Linked DNA regions of Homo sapiens. The protein of the gene in region 2 interacts with the protein of the main gene of each other region in a biochemical or structural test. Each region holds a gene or a part of one and is shown on either strand. Other genes may lie near its edges.

Region 1 (3,650 bases), on a different chromosome or scaffold from region 2:
AGTCACTATTTCGGGTACTAGAGAAACAGCAGTGAAACAGACCAATCTACTACAGAACCCAAAATAAAGAGCTAAAGAGAACTCACCGTGAGATCTAGGAAAACATTAAAATTCAGATCTAGACGTTATCAATCAAATGTATATTTATTAGTAGTAGTAATGGACATAATTATATTAAATAAGTATGATGGATTTCTGACTCCTTTCAAACTTAGAGAATATACGTAAAACTCGTAACAGTGAAAAACATCAGTGTATATTTTGCTGGAAATAAATCGTTAACATTCTGCTCAAGAAAATTAAATCTACTCAAACAAGAAAAAACATCAACCTAAAGAAAAAGTGAGATGGTTCTCACATTATTACTAAGTAAAAATATATACAAACTGTAAAGCCTTACATTTTCACTTTTTGAATCTCTCTCATTCCTAGAACAAGGAAAGTGTAGTACAAGAACCAGACAATTTTTTTCCACTTGTTTATCTTCCATTTGTTGGACATGATATATACCAACCTTTCTTTGGTAGTCCCCTTCCTTTCCCAGATCTGGATCGCCTATCCAGCAACCTTCCCTTTGGACTGGTTGGCACAGTTAATCCACTTCTAAGGGCGTCACTCCCACTGTCGCTGACCGAATCGCCTCTGCCAGAGTCCCGGGATGAGTTTTTCCTTAGTCGCCTTTTTGCCTTGGCATTAATTCTAGCTTCGTTAATGGAGGATGCTGAAATCCAATTTCCATTTATTTCATTCTTTATTTCCTCAGTCCCAGCATTTTCTTCATCACCGGAAAAGAGAGAGTCACTTAAGTTATCAGGATCTTAAAGAGAAAAATGAAGAAAAAAATTCTAAGTATTTTAAGTATCTACTGTTTTATAGATATAGTGGTAAGTTAGATTAGGTTGAATCACATGACATTACCATTTTTGTAGGTAAATTACAGTCACATATTGGGAATTTCATCTACTTCAATCTAATAAACAACTAAATAAGATTACTTTTCACATTATCAAGGAAAGTAAACCAAGGCACTGAATTTTAACAAAGCATGTTTGTTTCTTACCAAAAACAAACCAAATTTGTTTGTTTTTACCAAAAGAAGCATGTTATTTCACGTTTAGATCATAAAATCTATGCTAACAGCAACACCAAATATAAAACCCTTAGACTTTTATGAGCTAATTGGAGATATTAAGAAAAGACAAAGCATCTTGAGAAGAGAGATAAACTAATATTTATAGAATGCCTACTATTAGGCACTGTGCTAGACACTCTATCATTTATTTATGCACAAGTTTGGCAGTTAATTATTATAACATTGAAGACAGATAAGGAAACTAAGGCTGAGAATGTTTAAATGATTTGCCAAACGTCCCATAACTAGGTATAAACACTTAAGAACTATTAGTAATCCAAAAGAGAATGAAAGGCATTTAGCAAATAATCGCATATGATTGTTGAGCTGAACTGCTGATGCTTTACTGCCTCAAGACAAAGTTTGCTTTCAAGAAAAGCCAACATCTCAAAGTCCTAATTCATCTCCCTAAACTTTTCTCCTATTACTTACCATCCTGTAAATCTTCCAGCCTATATAAAATTGATTCTTCTGAAAGAGATCAACATACTGGAGTTCCCAGTAGAATGTCGCCCTCACTGTTATTTTCAGTTATCAAAATCCTTTAGGATATAGCCCAAGTCTTACTCCCTGCATTAAAACTTCCCTTACAACTCTAGGTACAGGAACACTAATTGCTCACATACTATTCATTCAACACGTCATGGAAATCACTTTCTTTTTATATAGCAGTCTTTTTCTTCCAACTAAGTCATAAGCTTCAAAGGAGAAACCACAACTAGACTGTATGTCCTTCTTTGTATCCCCATCACCTAGCAGAGTGTCCTTCATACTCAAATTCCATGGAGATCAAGTGGAGGCACTTGGCTTTGCCCTGAAAGCTCTTTAAGTCAGAAAGGCTACTGAATTAGCTACCACTGGGCCACAGTTTTGTTCATTATTGTTAACGCAAATCAGAGCTGAATCACTCAAATCATTTTCTATATGCCTAAAGATAATTATAACATGTCAGGTCTATGTGCATGGGCTTTAATATGTTTTAAGACATGTTGAAACCAAAAATTTTCACCAACCTATAAAAAGCATACATGTGTTTAAATCTTTACAATTCTTGACATACTTAGGAAGGTAGGAATGTTTTGTTTTAAACAAAATCATCAATTAGAGCCAAATTATTTCACTAGTCTCATAAGTAGTCTCCCTGCCTCCAGTCTTCAAACTATACTGAATGAAGACTGATTTTCTCAAGCATGCCCTCACTGAAGATCCTTTAAAAGTAGTCCCATTATGTCACAAAAAATGTAAACTTTTTTTTTTTTTTTTTTGAGACAGCGTGTCGCTCTGTCACCCAGGCTGGAGTGCAGTGGTGCAATCTCAGCTCACTGCAAGCTCTGCCTCCCGGGTTCACGCCATTCTCCTGCCCCAGCTGGGACTACAGATGCCTGCCACTACGCCTGGCTAATTTTTTTGTGTTTTTAGTACAGATGGGGTCACCGTGTTAGCCAGGATGGTCTTGATCTCCTGACCTCGTGATCCACCTACGTCGGCCTCCCAAAGTGCTGGGATTACAGGCGTGAGCCACCGCACCCAGCCAAAATGTAAACTCTTTACCTTGTAACTTAAGGTCCTTTATGATCTTGCCCCTGCTTACCTCACCAGAATCACTGCTAACTACTCCCACACTCAAATTGTCAGAGCTTAAGTTAGATATCATAGGGAAGAGATGGGAGGGATTCATTTGGCAGAAGAATACTGAGTATATTACAAAAAGAGAAAGTATAAAGTAGGAAACCGCTAAGAAAATGCTTCAGTAATTCAGTCACAAGCTAACTGGTAAAGAGCAAGGGTAGTAACTGTGGGATAAATAATAATGTTACACTTTTAAAGAAAATAATGAAGGACTTTTAAGCAGAATGTATCTAGGATTAAAGAGAAGTCAAACAATGCCTTAAAAGTTTTCAAACTGGTAAGAAGCCGGTGTTAGGATGGTGTGTTTGGGACATCATCATAACCATCAGTAGTAATTATAGTCTTAGTGGAAGTAGTCGTAGTACTGTTTCTTTCATCATTACCATTACTATTGTCATCTATTAGATACCAGGTTCCACACTACCTGGTACCTATTAGATTCCACACTACCTGGTACCTATTAGCTAAGGCACTTTACATATGTGGTCTATAAGCTTCAAGAGCTCTAGAAAGAAACTGTTTATCCTCATTTTACAGAAGGAATGTGTTTCACAAGAAGTTACATATCTAGAAAGGATTATGGCTAGAATTCAAACCCACATTTTTAATCCCATATAACTACAGAAAATACAAAACTAGAATACAGCAGAGTATTGACAGCTAAAGAGACGAACAAGGGCGTGAATGTAAAGAGAGATAAACAAAAATGATTAAGTGGAAGGGGACAGAAAGATCAGGATCACATAAATTAGATGACATTTTCGTGTAAGAGTGGATGGTTGAGAAAAACATTAAACATCTACCTGTAACATAGTGCTTTCATCATTGTGCCATTAAGGTGAACCACAAAACTGGTCCAGAAGACACAGGAGTCAGAACTATAATAAAA
Region 2 (3,650 bases):
CAAGGGAGAGTGAGAAAAATGTGCTTTTGGGGATGCTGAGCCCCGAAGCTTCAGGTGCCTCCAGGACTGCCCGGCTAGCCTGAGGGCTGGGCTCCTACACTGTGGGGCTGGGCCAGGGGATCCAGGCACGTACCTTCTCATCATATACAATGCGAGGCCTGATCTCTGGGGCCTGGTAGCCAGGAGTGCCCTCCACGCCTAGGGCGCCCTCATGGAATGACTGCCTCGAAATCCCGTAGTCAGATAGCTTGATGTTGATGTGCTCCTTGACGTCAAGGGACCACACCAGAATGTTGTCCGACTTCAGGTCACAGAAGATGATGTTTTTCTTGTGCAGGTAGGCCAGGCCCGAGGCGATCTGGTAGGCTATTTTTTGGGTGAGCATGTGTCCCAGGGGTATAAAGGAAGAATCTTGCAAAGAAAAACAATTTTCAAATGTATCAAAATTTCAGTTTTGATAGAATCAAATTATCATGATAACAACTGTCTTTTTGTCTTCCGATCTCCCTAGATACTTTATGATTTTTTTTCTTTTTTCTTTTATTGAGACAGAGTCTCCCTCTATCACCCAGGCTGGAGTGCAGTGGCATGGTCTTGGCTCACTGCAACCTCTGCCTCCAGGGTTCAAGCAGTTCTCCTGCCTCAGCCTCCCAAGTTGAGTAGCTAGGACTATAGGCGCGTGCCACCATGCCTGGCTAATTTTCGTATTTTTAGTAGACATGGGGTTTCACCATGTTGGCCAGGCTGGTCTTGAATTCCTGGCTTTAAGCGACCTGCCCGCCTGGGCCTCCCAAAGTGTTGGGATTACACATGTGAGCCACTGCGCCTGGCCCTTAGATACTTTATATTCCATTGACACATTCTCACTATTCACCAGACTGCCATAAAGGACAGAGAATGGCCTGGTTAAGTGAAACAGTATTTAGGATAGAAATGCTCATCGCTGTAGCTTCATTCCTGATATCTTATTCCTGGAATTGCTGGCATTTTGCTGAATGAGCAAGGGTTCGAAATCTCTAGAGTTCACCTCAGGTCAAGGCTGTCCTACGTAAAGGGGTGAGAGGCAAGTAGAAGCATTTTGTTTGGCTGGGCGTGTGGCTCATGCCGGTGATTCCAGCACTTTGGGAGGCTAAAGTGGGGGGATCGACTGAGCTCACAGTTCGAGAACGACCTGGGCAACAGGGTGAAAGGCCATCTCTACAAACAACAACAACAAATTAGCTGGGTGTGGTGGCGTGTGCTTGTAGCTACTCGGGAAGTTGCGGTGGGAGGATGGCTTGAGTTCAGGAGGTCAAAGCTGCAGTGAGCTGAGATTGCACCACTGTCCTCCAGCCTGGCCAACAAAGTGAGATCCTGTATTAAAAAAAAGTAAAGAATTCTGTTTAAAAAATTATCTTCCATTGAGGCAGAAGTGATTGATTTTCATAGCATTTCTTCTTCCTTAGTCAAAAGACAGCTACCTTTCACCCTCTGGCCACTCTGGAGTTTAGCTGCTCTTTTCTCAAGGTAAATTACTTCGACATTTTATGTTAAAATATGGTCCCACTGACCCTGCGGTCTCAGAGTCTCAGCAGCCGTGTACGTGTGCAGTTGGGAAAGTGATTCAATGCAGCTCCCGTGCTCGGTGCCCTCCCAGCGAGGCCTGTTACCATCCTCCTTTTACAGGCAAATAAACTCAGCGGCTTTCCGGACCGCGGCAGAGCCTGGTCTTAGCCGACTCCAGAGTGTGCGCTCCCCCGTCCTCGCCAAGGCTCTGCCTAGTGACTGGACCTGGCGGGGAGCCTGGCCTCGCAGCCAGGGGATGGTCACACGAGCCATGGGTTGGGCGTGCCCTGGGCTTGCCAAGGCCACCTGAGGCTCTACCCCCCGTGCCAGGCAGGAGGCGCCCGGGGCTCTGTCGGTCTCCGGGGCCGGGTGGGGCGGCGCGCCGCGGTACCTCTGGCGTTCTCGGACAGCACGGTGTTGAGGCTGCTGAGCGGCGCGAGCTCCAGGGCGAAGCAGAGCGGGTGGATGCTGATGCCGATGAGCGCCACGATGCAGGGGTGCTGCAGCGCGTGCAGCATGCTGGCCTCCTGCCGGAACTCGGAGAAGTTCTTCATGGCATCGGTGGCCCGCAGGTGCCTCAGCATGGTGTCTGCCAGGGACAGCGCAGTGTCAGCCAGTAGGACATGGGGTGCCTGCAGCCTCAGGCCTCTCTAAGGCCGCACAGAGCTTAGACCCGGGCAGCATATGTCTGAGAAAAACAGCACCAACCTGGGACCCGCTTACCTGCCGGTACGTTAGCAAAGTTCTTGAATTTTTTGATGTGGAAGCGCTTGACGGCCACAGGCTGGCCCTGGTACCGGGCCCGGTAGATGACGGTGCCACTGCCGCCCTGGCCCAGGACGCTGCCCTCGTCCTCGCTGTGCTCCAGCTTGCTGTTCTCCAGGAAGAGCCTGCCACACACGCCCGGCATCAGCCACATCCCCCCCGCCCTGATGCGGGTGGGTCCTGGGCTGGGTCATTTGCCCCAACGGCCGAGAGTCATGGTTCAAAGCCATCTGTGAGGCTGGACAGATCTGGGCCACCCCGGCCCTGCCACTTGTGGGTGAGCACACCTGGGTAGGTTATGCAGGCTTGCTAAGCCTCAGTCTCCTCTGTACAGAGGGCTCTCAGGACAGGAACGGCCTCAGAGGTGGTGATGGCTGGCACAGGGTGAACCCCACAGAAGTGGTGGCCGTAGAGAAAGGACCCCTTTGGAAGTTTTCTTCTGAAAGGTGACGTTTCCTATTTCCTCCCCGATTCTCTCTCTAGTTATGATCTTGGGTTAGCATAGGTACAATAAACTCTAAGAACAGATTTGAGGGGTCCAAGGCTCAGCGCTAGGGCTACAGACAGGAGTCAGCGTTTGACAAAGAAGGTAAACGAGGCTCTGGGTGGGAGCTCAGCGCTAGGGCTACAGACAGGAGTCAGCGTTTGACAAAGAAGGTAAACAAGGCTCTGGGTGGGAGCTCTCCCTTCTCTCCCCTTCCTGAATGCTTGAGGAGCACTGGCTGCACTTATCTGCTGGCCCTAGAGCTGGTGGGGAGGTAGGAGTGGAAAGGAGAGGCAGCTCAGGAGAGAGCAGCTCTGGCTACGAGGGGAAGGGGGAGCCGTATGGGGAGGCAGGATGGCTGCACTTGCAAAGCACTCTTCCCAGTTGGGCCTATCAAGGCCTCCAAAATGGAAAGCCGGCAGCCTGGTTCCTTTCAGGCAGCCGAGGATGGGAACCTAAAAGGTACTGAGATTGGTGGGAAGCCATGGCCGGGGCACCTGCCCGCCCCAGAGGGGTCTTCCTGGAGATCACTCGGCAACTGCACAGCGAGGAACGCCCCCTGTGACCTGCACTGTGTTCTGGGAGGGGCCTTCGGGGCATACCTGGCCGGGAAGTCGGTCATGAACAGTTCAGGGACCAGCTCCTGCAGCGGCACGGGGAGGTCCGGGTGTCTGGGGCAGGAGATGAAGTCCCGCTCGATGGCCGTCAGGACACAGTCTTCCATGTCGAAGTACTGCACATCCTCTGATTTCTCACTGGGGTCCGTGTGCTGGGCCCAGGCTGTCTCGCAGACCGGGCAGGGCACGTACTGCTCCATGAGTGGCGTCCCGTCGCTCTCTGTGGCTGTCAGGGCTAA
Region 3 (3,750 bases), about 26 Mb from region 2:
ATCTCCTGAGATATACTCTCTGGCTGCTTGGCCGGCCAAGGGGGTACTTGGCTCTCTACGGGCAGACTCCATACTCTGGAAAGCAGCCTGGGGCCCTGGAGCAAAGGCAGGCTCATATTCACCGGCTTGAGGGCTGGTCCCAGCTCCATGGCTCACTGGCTGTATGATCTTAGCCAAGTCCCTCCATTTCTCTTAGCCTCAGTTTCATCTTTTGTCGCTGTGGGTGATAGCTGCCTGGCAGCATTATTGGGGGTTAGATGAGGACATGAAGGTCAAGTACTTGGCACACACAGGGCTTCTCTCCCCCACCTTAAGTAAGTTCTGCCCTTCAGTAGGTTCAGAAACCCCCAGAACACTCACCTCTGCAGTCAAATCTACTGATTTCTGCCTCCCCTGTGTCTTCCTCTGCCCAGGCCTGGCCCAGGCTTGGTGGGGATATGGGGGGTGGAGGAGAGAAGAGGCCTAGATTGGCTCCAGAAATACAGACCTGTCAGTCTCATGAGGACTGGGGTCCCCTCAGCACAAAGCCCTGGCCCTTGGTGGGCACAGATTTAACTACGAGTGAGTGAATGAATAAAAGAACAAATGAATGAGAAGGAAGGATCTAACCAAATACCCTGTGAGTCTCATAGCTGAGGGCTGTGGTGCCCAGAATGGGGCGAAGGAGTCCAGAACCCAGAGCTCAGGGTCCCAGATGTGCCTCACAGCCGGGGCCAGCTTACCTTGGGTAGCCGGTATTTGTCTCGGAAGTGGCTCCGCAGTGTGGCCCGCTCTGCCTTCCTCTGTGTGAACTGTGCATCCCGCTCCATCCTGCAGGGTCACCGGAGGCAGAGTCACCACGAGGGCTGAGAGAAGGGGGTTGAGGTCTTCGAGGGAGGGACAGAAGGGGTCTCTGAGTCCTAGCAGCTGCTGCATTGGTCCCTGTGTGTAGCAAAAGCGCTCCAACCCGGACATCCAGGTTTCTGCTGCCTCTGCCCATCACAGTGCCCTTTGTCGTCTCTGCCACTGGATGGAACTAGGGAACCAGGGTGGCAGTCTGTCTGGCTCTCTCTGCAGATCCTAATTATTTGTCCCTCATGGCCTCCAACTTGGTCTGCTGTTCCCTCACTGACAAGCTATGTCATGTGGGGAAAAGTATTCAGGCCAAACTTGGGTTCACATCCCAGCTCCACTACCATTTTAGGTATATCCTTAGGTAAGTCACTTACCTTCCTCTTCTGTAAAATGGGGATAAAATTTTGCAACTCACAAAACTGTTATCAGGATTGAGCGAAATAATAGCTATCATTTATGAGACTTTATCATGTGCCAGGTGCTGTGCTAAACAGTTTACATGCATTGGCATTTAATCTTCATAAATATACAAGGCATGTATTATGATTACCATCCCCACTTTCCAGAAAAGGAAACAGAGGCACAGAAAGGTTAAGTAACTTGCCTAAAGTTATCCAGCTAATAGGCAAAGCCAGGCTCTGAACCCAAGTAGCCTAGCAGCAGAGTCCAGCCCCAAACTCTGTCCCAGCACTGCGGGCACACAAGTGCTCAATGTTTGTGAGTGCCCCCATCTCAGGGTCTGTCTCCGCGACTCTGAGCGGCTGCACCACTTTTTTCAGAGCCTCAAGTTCAGAGGAGCCCCAGTTGGAAGACATAGGCGGCTGGGACCAGATCGGATTAAGGGATTATCGTTTCGTCAGAAACGCACGTGCACCCCCTTCCTCGTCCCAGGCTCCGGTCGGTCCCTCGTCCGGTCGCCCCTCCCCCCACTCCCCCTTGGCCGGAGCATGATGCTGGAGCGGGGTTTTGGGTGTCAGATAGGATGGGTCTGGGGGCAGTGTAGAGGACACCTCCCGGTCTCTTACCGTGTCTAGGAAAGTAGGGGAGAAGGGATTGGGACCTGAGGCTGGCCCGGGGATGGACTGAGCAGCTGTGGGGGTGGGGAGGGGAGGTCGTTGGAGCCAGGAAGGGATCCCACTCACTTCTCTTCCACGAGTTGCTTCTGATACTCCTCGTACTCCTCCCGGCTCATGCCCTGAGCTTCGGCTGCCGACTTGTCCCCATCTCCCTTATCCTCGCCGCCTCCCAGGCTCCCAGTGAGGTTCTTCAGCTGGCCGCCCACCATGGTCTTCACCATGAACGCCATGGTCTTCGCCGGCCGGGGCACCGGGCGCCTGCTACCACGCGCCAGGCACCGGGCACGTCCGCGCCTACTTCAGCACTAGGTTTCGCGGACAGCTCCCGCCGCGGGCCCGCGCCCCACGCTTGGCACCGCCCGCCGCCCGCCCCCGCCCGGGCCCGCCCCCACCTCCCCAAACCCCTCCTCACTGGGGGCGGGGGGCAGCACGGGGCTGAGAAGGCTGGACCACGTGCCCGCTCCCCACTCCCGCCTCCCCCACGTGCCTCCTTCAACGCCGAGCTCCGCTGGGCACTGCTGACAGAGGATTAGGGCCTGCGGTGGTGGGGTCGCTCTCCCGGGAGAGGGGTTGAGCTCATACACTCCCGGAACCCTGTTCCATAGCCTCTTCCAACTTTCTCCTCTCCTGGGCCACTAATAACTAGGATTTCAGCTGGGAGATCCAGGTAGCAGCAAGGGGTAAAAACCCAGCCTTGGGTGCCCCCCATTCTCCCCACCCACCCAAGTCACTGAACCCAGCAGCTGCCCAGAGAGCTTGACGCTGGAAAAGGGAGGGAGACCTGAGGGCGCGAGCGGGAATCCCAGTTATGGTTCCACGAGTTGGCCTCTCAGGGTTGCTCTGTCACGCGCCTCCCCTGCTGCCCCTGGAGCAGCTAGGAGTGGGGAGGGAGAGAGCTGCTCAGTGATGCTGGCTGAGCTGGGCCAGGAGGGACACTGGGAGACACTGCTCTCTGTTATGGGTGAGTTTGAGGACAGAATTATATACAGTCATGGCTCTCTTTCCCTCCATAGTCGAGGGTTCAAAGCCCGTGGGGTATCCGGTCTTTTGGAGGTTAAGCCAGGCCTTGGCCTCCTTGCCTGCTTGGAGCGCACTCCCAGCCAGGTACTCAGAAGGGGTGGAAGCCTTCACAGAGATTAGGGTGAGGCTGGAAAGAAGACCAGCATATCACAGCATGGGGAGAGGGAAATCACCTTTAACGAGGTGGGAGCATGCCGAAAGCTCAGGTGTGCGTGGGAGCTGGGCACCCAGACGGAGAGGATACTGACCAAGCCCCCACCCAAGACACTGCCTGCTTCCCAGTGATGCAAAGCAGGCTCTGAGGTGGGTCAGGCAGGCATGCTGGCAGGGAGAGGCTGCCTCCTCAGAATCCCCAGGGCCCTGGGGGTGTGTGGTGCAGGACCCAGAGGAAGGCTGCCTGTGGACAGACACTCCTGAAGGCTCTTGTTCAGCTCCTGCCTGCTGCCAGAGAGAAGGTTACAGGTTACTTGCGTCTCTCCTTTATGGGCTTTTGAAAAACCAGGACTCTCATGCTTGCCTTGCTACACTCACTGCACCACAACCTCCGCTGTTCTTGGACTTTCTGTGGCTCCTTTGGCCCGCTGCATATGGTCCACGCTTTCCCCCTGGGCATGTAAGGTCTGTCCTAGTGGCTCCAGGCTGATTGCCACCACTGCACTCCTGTGCATGTGCTGAAGCCTGTGAGCATTTCTACCTTGTGCTTTTTAAAGCTTAGCTCATTTTACTCCTCCTCCAGGACCATCCCAGCCCACACGGACTCTTCTTGTCTTGAAATTCCACCAACAAAGATTGTCAGTCTCATTGCTGAGGCCTTTAGCAC

The links.
Region 1: the proteins of LRRK1 (region 2) and PDCD4 form a complex in vitro, tested with the Homo sapiens proteins (2 studies listed by BioGRID and IntAct, with this or other methods).
Region 3: the proteins of LRRK1 (region 2) and CPLX3 form a complex in vitro, tested with the Homo sapiens proteins (one large-scale study listed by BioGRID).

Annotation. Positions count from the first base shown.
Region 1 is NC_000010.11:110,878,400-110,882,049, reverse strand, and holds part of PDCD4 (programmed cell death protein 4), read right to left. Parts: intron 818-3,650; coding exon 515-817; intron 1-514. UniProt on the Homo sapiens protein: Inhibits translation initiation and cap-dependent translation. May excert its function by hindering the interaction between EIF4A1 and EIF4G. Inhibits the helicase activity of EIF4A. Modulates the activation of JUN kinase.
Region 2 is NC_000015.10:101,051,707-101,055,356, reverse strand, and holds part of LRRK1 (leucine-rich repeat serine/threonine-protein kinase 1), read right to left. Parts: exon of another isoform or gene 3,647-3,650; coding exon 3,397-3,646; exon of another isoform or gene 2,968-3,396; intron 2,900-2,967; exon of another isoform or gene 2,436-2,899; coding exon 2,269-2,435; intron 2,135-2,268; coding exon 1,937-2,134; intron 412-1,936; coding exon 134-411; intron 1-133.
Region 3 is NC_000015.10:74,825,094-74,828,843, reverse strand, and holds the start of CPLX3 (complexin-3), read right to left. Parts: upstream 2,218-3,750; 5' UTR 2,141-2,217; coding exon 1,977-2,140; intron 811-1,976; coding exon 723-810; intron 713-722; exon of another isoform or gene 1-712. Other genes in the region: LMAN1L (protein ERGIC-53-like precursor), read right to left, coding at 3,239-3,368.